Linked DNA regions of Homo sapiens: region 1 is linked to region 2. The links come from fine-mapping of genetic effects on plasma protein levels. Region 2 holds a variant in brackets. A gene starts in the other region. All regions are shown on their reverse strands.

What was found. PIP is the posterior inclusion probability: the model's chance that the variant is causal. Protein levels are from antibody-based Olink assays in UK Biobank. Linkage for the fine-mapping came from a reference panel and not from the study's own genotypes, which makes the PIPs less certain.
Region 1: it holds the start of HS6ST1, and the variant in region 2 is fine-mapped to the plasma level of the HS6ST1 protein (UK Biobank, PIP above 0.99).

The regions. Positions count from the first base shown.
Region 1 is chr2:128,316,502-128,320,499 of GRCh38, reverse strand. It overlaps HS6ST1 (heparan sulfate 6-O-sulfotransferase 1), which reads left to right and starts at 1,632. Exons shown (of 2, transcript NM_004807.3): 1 at 1,632-2,463. The coding sequence starts at 1,937. RefSeq lists silencers at 1,290-1,699, 2,394-2,623 and an enhancer at 3,625-3,774.
Region 2 is chr17:28,389,887-28,394,395 of GRCh38, reverse strand. All of the region lies in intron 7 of SARM1 (sterile alpha and TIR motif containing 1), which reads right to left. Among named protein-coding and RNA genes, the nearest start is that of SLC46A1, 14 kb to the left of the region's middle. The variant A/G (reference allele first, on the strand shown) is at 1,790.

The sequences.
Region 1 (3,998 bases), not on the chromosome of region 2:
GACTGCGTCAAGGGGCTGCAGGCAGGTCCAAGCACACTGCAGGGCGGCCCCACCTGTGTCCCATGGGGACTGCACCCCCACTCCTATAGGAATGAGTCACTTCTGGAGAAGCTTGTCCAAGCTGCCCCCAGGACCCTCGGGCCAGGGACAGTTTTAAAGCAGCCTACAAGATGAGCAGGGGCTTTGGGGCCCTAGGTCCCACTGAGGACCCCACACCATGGACTCCAGGGTGCGCTGGGCTGTGTTGAGGGTTCTGCACCCGCCTGTCCACAGCGGATATTCTTGCGGTCCCTTTGGAAAATGCATGCCGCCCGCTCAGCTGGGTTTGGGGTGTTGGTTTTTCCAGCTCTCTGGGTTTGCTTCCAGGAGGGCTTTCTGGTGTGATGTTGTCTACGTTTAACAGCTTTACTGAGGCATAATTGACACCCCATGATCGCTTCCGGTCCCTAACAGAACGGAAGGCAGGGCACCACCCCGCCTCCCCCCCCACCCCGTCCCCGGCAGGGCTTGACGTGGACACTGGGAGCCCACGCCTGGCAGCCAGACTCGCTCCCAGAGCCCTCGCTGGCCTGAACCAACACACTAGGGCCCACCGCGGCCGGCCCTGCAGCTGTGAGATCCTGGCAGGTCCCAGCCCCACTCCTGCGCTTCCGACGGGCTGCAGCCTCCGAGTACTGCCAGAGCCCAAGCAGTGTGAGTGGGCACCTGGCGGGACCCCCCGCCCCACGAATGCCGCGCGTGCTTGCCAGGCTGGGCGGCGGCGAGTGAGGAGCCCGCACCACCCGGCCCACACACGAGCCAACGTGGAGCGAGCCCTCCGCAGCCAGGTTGGGCCCGGGCCGCTGGACTCTCCAACCAACCCACGAAAGACAGAATATTTGGTGGGCACTCACGATTCTTAAGAATTGGCTCAATGTTTTATAACTCTTTCATTGGAGTATAATAAACATGGATGGGGGAAAATGCACCTCGTCTGATATTCTTTTCAAACAAGGAGGAAGCCATAAAGCCGCTCCGCAGGCCTCTGCAGACAGCCCAACATCTCTTCAATGCGGGGCTGCGGGGCACTGTCCCAAAGCCAGCCGCAGGGGTGAGGGGGTCGAGCAGGAAAGGAAAGCCTCGCTTTCCCTCTCGGTCCTGGTGGTGGGCGGCCCCCGCCGCCCTGGTCCCTGGAAGTGCAGCCCAGTAGGCTAGCGTCTAACTTCAGCGCCCCAGCGTGCAAGGTCAAGGCCTTTCCTCCCGCGCGGGCTGCGGGGACGTGGGCGGCTGGGACTTGGGGAGGAGGGGGTACGGACCCAGGCTCCAGAAGCGCCAGCCGCCGCGCCCCCTCACCGCGGCCCCCGCCAGGAGAGCCTCCCACGCCTCGGCTCCGCACTGCCGGTTGGTCCCCCACTCCCCTGAGGGCGGAATCACTTCCCAGTCGCTGGCTGCCCGCCTGCTAGCGGCCTCGCCACCGCAGCAGACCCAGGTCCCGCGCCCAGCACCCGCGGCGAACCCCGGCACTCCGGAGGCGGGGCCGAGGATCGGCGCGGGCGGCGACGGCAAGAGACGCCACGGGGGCGGGCCAGGGGCGGACCGGGGCGGGGCGGCGGCGGCGGACTGCGGAGACGCGGCGGCGCGCGGGGCGGCGCAGAGCGTTCTCGGCGCGGAGTGGAGCGGAGCGGGCTGGTGCTGGGGGCGCGGAGAGCGCTGTGCTGGCCGGGGCCGGGAGCGGGGCCGAGCGGGAGCGGAGTCGGGCGTCGGGCCCGGGGAGCCGGGGCCGGGCGGGGAGCAGCCATGGCACCGCGGAGGGTCGGGGCCCGCGCCGCTGCGGGCGGCCTGGGCGCCGAGTAGCCGGGCCGGGCCGGAGCGCGGGCGGCGGCGGAGGCAGCTGCGCCCGCGCCTCCTGCCCTCCCAGGCCCCGCGCCCCGCGCCCGGGCCCCGGCGATGGTGACACATGCGGCGGCGGCGCGCCGGCGGCAGGACCATGGTTGAGCGCGCCAGCAAGTTCGTGCTGGTGGTGGCGGGCTCGGTGTGCTTCATGCTCATCTTGTACCAGTACGCGGGCCCAGGACTGAGCCTGGGCGCGCCCGGCGGCCGCGCGCCGCCCGACGACCTGGACCTGTTCCCCACACCCGACCCCCACTACGAGAAGAAGTACTACTTCCCGGTCCGCGAGCTGGAGCGCTCGCTGCGCTTCGACATGAAGGGCGACGACGTGATCGTCTTCCTGCACATCCAGAAGACGGGCGGCACCACCTTCGGCCGCCACCTCGTGCAGAACGTACGCCTCGAGGTGCCGTGCGACTGCCGGCCCGGCCAGAAGAAGTGCACCTGCTACCGGCCCAACCGCCGCGAGACTTGGCTCTTCTCCCGCTTCTCCACCGGCTGGAGCTGCGGGCTGCACGCCGACTGGACCGAGCTCACCAACTGCGTGCCCGGCGTGCTGGACCGCCGCGACTCCGCCGCGCTGCGCACGCCCAGGTGAGCGCCCGGGCGGCGGGATCCTCGCGCAGCTGCGCCCCCGAGGCCGGGCCGTATGCCCGCCGTGCTGTACTGGGTCGGCCCTGCCTTCCCTACCCCCTTCTGCCCTCTTGGGGGCCCCCACTCGCCGGCACCCCTCCCGACCTGCCGAGCGCCCGAGGCTCCCAGCTCCTCTGGGTGAGCCGGCTGTCACCGCGCTTTCTGACCTCGCTCTCACTCTCTTCCTTGCCTTGTGCTGCCCTACTGCCGGCTTGACTGCGCAGCGCCCGGGTTTTCTCCAGGGTCCCCGCCCGCTGCCCTCGGGCCACCTTACCTGCTGTGCGCCGTGAGGTCTGGCCCGCCGGACTTGGGGACGCGGGCTTCTGGGTGTGTGCGTGGCCTACCTGGAGTGTTGGCTTCCCCGTGCCGCTTCGGTGCTGTGGTCCCAAAAGTGGAAGTGAGAGTAGTGAGGTGCCGCCCCTGTGCCTGGAGTGCCTGCCTTCAGAGGGTGGGGGAGCTGCCAGGGAAGGGGGCTGGCTCTGCCCGCCTGCCTGCCGGTGTGTGCAGGTAGAACAAAGGCCCTGTTGACCTGGGGCTGGGGGCGGGGAGGAGGCAGTACCGCCTGTCCTCCCAGTGGGGCCTGCCAGCCGAATTCTTCCAGGCACAGGCTTGCCTGGAGAGAGGAACAAAAGCCACCCGATGGGGGACCACCTTCCCCAGGAAGCTACCAGCCAGGTTGGGGGTAGTTGAGCTGGTCCAGGGAACCTGTGCTGCCACACCCCTTCTCTGGGGTCCCCCAGCCCCATGTCAGAGCTGAGCTGCGTGAGGACACAGAGCATGGGAGGGGTGCCGGGGCAGCTCTTCTGGGAAGCCGTTTGTAGGGGAACCTGGGGTGCTGCTGGGTTTCCAGCAGTTAAAGTTGGGGTTATTTTCCTCCTGTTCCTGTTGGTGCCCATTCGTCCTGCAGGGATGCCCTGCGGGGCCTTTCTCCCCAAAGTCTGGGCTGGGAAGGGCCAGGAGCAGGGCTTCTTGTCTGCCTTTTGTTTCTCTTCCAAATTTGCCTTAGGACTGAATTTGCAGACAGGCTGGTGGTAGGAGGCTGGGCGGTTGTAGGCGTGTTGGCTGGCACTCTTGGGTCCAGAGGCTGTAGGCTCTCAGGTGTGCCTGGGGAGCCTGGAAGGTCCAGCCAGCCTGGAGCTGAGCAGAGTCCGAGACACTGCTCCCCTGCACAGACCTCAATCCTTGCTCTGTGGTCTTTCTCAGGCTGTCAGGAAATTGGGGTCCTAGAGTTGGAGGGGCATCTTCCCACTTTTCTTTCTCCCCCCTCCCCCAACTGTACACACACACACCCACACACACACACACACTGCAGCTCCCAGCCTGGGAGGTGATGTTCTGAGCCTCTTACAGCCACATTCTACACTTGGCGGTCACAGAGCTGCCTGTCTAGGGCCCCTGAAGGATTGCTTCCGGCCCAGCACTTAGTCTGCTCTGCACAGATGCACGTTCCTGCTGCAGGGCCCCCCTAACCCTGGTCCAGCTTCTCTGTGCTAGGC
Region 2 (4,509 bases):
CAGGTTGATCCATCATGCGCCCTGCCAATTGTACTCCTTACTTATTTCTCAAATCCACTATTTTTCCCTACCTCCACCCCACTACCACCCTCTTCCAATCCCCATTATCTTTAAGCCCCCACCAGGTCTTTCCTCATCCACGCTTGTCTTCTCTAATTCACTCTCCACATTGCCCTTTCATGTAGCTAATATTTGCAAAATGCACATCTGACAAATTAGGTCCTGTCACCCCCTACTTAAAATTCTTCAAGACTTTGCATGGTCTTAGAATAAAGTCCAAACTCCTTCATGTGGCCTGTGAGACCCTATGTGGTTGGCCACAGTCCACTTCTCAAACTCTACCCCTGCCCTGTCCTCCCAGACACACAAAATAAGCTTCCTTGTCCTTCCCCCTTGATAATGCCCATTCATTTTTCTGATCTGAGCTCAATCAACTCTTACACAGGGCAGTTGTCTCCCACTGCCCTGACCAAGTCAGTTCCCCTATTATAGGCTCTGCAGAACATATTATAGTTGCAAATTTTAATTAATTAATGGGTAAATTACTCAGTATTTGTCTTCTCTGCCAGACATGAGGAGGGATCATATCTATTTTTCACTGACCTTATATCTCAGCATCTTTCACAAAGCCCTTATAGTTAGCCCTTGCTAAATATTTAATAGATGGATGAATGAATGAATGAGAAAACATAGCACAGCAGTTAGGGCTGCACTCTGGAATCATCAAATCGGGGTTTGCACTGAGTCTCTGACACAGGCTCTACGACCTGAGGCAAAAATAATAGGTTCTCAAAGTCTCTGTTTTCTCTTTTCTTTCTTTCTTTTTTTTTTTTGGCGGGGGGCAGGGGAACAGGATCTCACTTTTTGCCCAGGCTGGAGGGCAGTGGCACCATCAAGGCTCACTGCAGCCTCAACCTCCTGGGCTCAAGCCATCCTCCCACCTCAGCCTCCCAAGTAGCTGGGACCACAGGCGTGTGCCACCATGTCCGGCTAATTTTTTGTATTTTTTAGTAGAGATGGGGTTTCACCATGTTGCCCAGGCTGGTCTCAAACTCCTGGCCTCAAGTGATCCTCCCACCTTAGCATCCCAAAGTGTTGGGATCACAGGCCTGCACTACCACACTCGTTCCTCTGTTTTCTAATATATAAAGCAGGATTAATGATAGTCCCTGTCTTCAGGATTGTTCCATGGAATAAGCGCAACATTCCATGGCAAGTAATTAGAACAGTGCTTTGCATGCAGTGTATGCTTAATACGTAATAGGTGTTATTATTTCCTCTTCTGTAAAGTGGGGATAATAAAACCTACCTCAAAGCGTTGTTCTGAGGAATTATTTGCTAGTAATCGGGTTCCATTAAGTGCTTATTGAATGTTTTTCTTCCTCTCAAGAGGGAACCAAAGGGATTTTACTTTTTTGAGTGCAGTTCACTTGTGGTTTTTCCCTATTGATTACCCACTAATGTGGCTTCAGGGAAAGGAGTTTTAAAACCAGAGGCAATTAAGCACCAGAAACAACCAAAGAGGGATGACGGAGCCTCTGGGGCCGGTCCAAGACAAAGGCTCCTCTCACCTCTTTGCCATCTGCTGGGACGACAAGGGGTGCCAAGCATTCTTGGGAAGTGGAGCCTTCCTGGGGAAAGAACATGCGTAACTTCGTCCTTGACTGGCTTCCTGGGGAGCCGCTCCATTTTACAGATGGAGAGAAAAAAGCCCAGAGAGGAAGGGATTTCCTCCTAAGCCACACACACGCCCAGCCCACGAGGGGCCGGTCCTCTGACTCAAGCCTCG[A/G]GAGTCCAAGTCCAGGCTGTTTCAGCCAAGCCCTGCTGCCTTTCTGCTGAGCATTGGAATGAATCCTGAGCCTGCAGCAATTTATTTGGAAATTTTTAGAAATTTGTTTCATCCAGAATTATACAAAACCAAAGACAGTACAAATTATTCATCGCACAGATTCAGAGGCTGGCCAAGAAAGGGATAATGGCGGCCGTGTGTGGTGGCTCATGTCTGTAATCCCAGCACTTTGGGAGGCCAAGGCGGGCGGATCACGAGGTCAGGAGATCGAGACCATCTTGGCCAAGATGGTGAAACCCCGTCTCTACTAAAAATATATATATATAAATTAGCTGGATATGGTGGCGTGTGCCTGTAGTCCCAGCTACTCAGGAGGCTGAGGCAGGGGAATCACTTGAACCCGGGAGGCGGAGGTTGCAGTGAGCCGACCAAGATCTCACCACTGCACTCCAACCTGGTGATAGAGCAAGACTGTGCCTCAAAAAAAAAAAAATAATTAAATAAATAAAAGAAAGGGATAATGGTTTGTTCAGGATCACCTAGCTGGTTGAGAACGAAAACAATTAGAGTCAAGTCCTCTGGCTGGGCACGGTGGCTCATGCCTCTAATCCCAGAACTTTGGGGAGCCGAGGCAGGCACTGAACTCCAGGCTTGAGCTCAGGAGTTCGGGACCAGCCTGGGTGACATAGCGAAACCCTATCTCTACTGGAAAAAAAAAAAAAAAAACGGAGTCAAGTCCTCTAACCTGGTAAATCTACTAGATATGTATGGCTCTCCCAGGCATGGCATCTCAGCTTCATCAGTATCACTTGTCTGCTTAATCATTGATTCAATTGTTCTATAAACTCCTCTACAGCCTCAGCCTCTCTCTCTCTCTCTTTTTTTTTTTTTTTTTTTTTGGTGCAATTGCATAGAGCCTCCTTTGTACCATGCATGGTTTTAGGCACCAGGGACACAGATGAATGAGGCAAGGTCTGAAGTCTCATGGAGCTCACAGACACTCTTTTCTTTCTCTCAAAAGGCTGCCTGCCACGTGCTCTGGGTTATCAGCCATGTTCTTCCTGGATGCTCAACTGCCCCAGTGCCCCTCCCCAAACCAGGCCTAGTACTCAGCCCCTCCTACATGGCCTCTGGGGCTTGACTCCACACTCCATGTGGACTGCATTCCAGTGTCAGAGCCTTCATCCTAAGACCCACCGCCCTGGCATCTTCTCCTTCATGGGCTCCTTGATTTCCAGTGCTTTAAGCACAGGTCTTCTCCTGCCTTTAGACACTGCTTTACCTGGTTTCCATGGTTCTTATCCAGCCAGTGGTGTGCTGCTAACTTTATAGTAACTAGCTATTCATGGGGGAAGAAAACCCAACCAGCCAATCAACCAAACTAACAAAACTTTGATTTGTAGTGGTTGCCAATTTCCTTGGTGTAAATACTCCCACCATGGCTGATGACAAGCTACCAACATGACATCACTGGATGTGGAGTTGTGAAGAGATACAATCATCTCTGGTGTCAACCGAATCCAGCCCTACCCCATCACCTCCCCTCACACCCCCTCAGAGCTGTGCCATAGAATGCAGTGTGGATCTTGGGAAAGTGATGAGCTTTGGAGTCAGATAGATGGAATTTGAAGCCTAGCTTTTCTGATTTCTACACTAGTAGTGCAGCCAGGGGAACATTATTCTACTTTTCTGAGCCTCAGTTTCTTCATCTGTGATATGGAGAAAGCAGTACCAAGATGTATGTGGGCTTTCAGCACTGTTCTCCTCCCTACCTTTATTCCTTTGCTCATGCTGTTACCCTGGCCTGGGATGCCTTCTATTCCACTTACCCAGATTCTTAAGATTCTTCTCAAGACCTGCTTCCTCCATGAAGTCTTCCCTGATTATTCCAGTCCTTTGAGGACTAAACTCTGATTTTTTTTTTTTTTATCTTGCCCAAATTCCTACCTAAGGAGCCTAGGGAGTCATGCCCTACAAACCATAAAGTCTTATCGGAGGAGGTTTTAATTTTAACCCTATATAGCGTGGTCTGCTTTCTAACCTGACTCTAGCATAACATCACATAATAAGGGAGGAAATAAAAATATTTTAACCCCAAATATATTTCCCTGCCATATCTTGAAATTGCTCCACAAGTTTGTCTCTTGTGGGAAAAGGCCACATTCTATAGAGAATCCCCTTCCCCCCATTTTTTTCTTTTTCTTTCCGGACTCAGGAGATAATCAACAAAGAGCCAGGCACCCTTATAAGTCTGATAAGAAACATTTTATAACCTACTCCCTCTGAAGTCTGCCCTGAGAACTTCCTCTGCACAATAAAACTTGGTCTCCACAACCCTTTATCTTAACCTAAACATTCCCTTTCTATTGATCCCAGGTCTTCAGATAAACTCAATTAATTATCAACTGGAAAAATTTAAAATTTACCTATAGCCTGGAAGCCCCTGCTTTGAGCTGTCCTGCCTTTCTGAACCAAACCAATGTACATCTTAAATGTATTGATTGATGTCTCGTGTCTCCCAAAAATGTATAAAACCAAACTGTGCCCTGATCACCTTGGGCACGTGTTCTCAGGGTCTCCTGAGGGCTGTGTCACAGGCCATGGTCGCTCATAGAGTCTGACTCTTTTCGTTGACACCTTGATGCTCTCTCCCTTCTCCAAACCCCTGTGGCAAGCAAGATGTTTGCTTACCTGGCTCAGCATTTACACCAACTTGTATG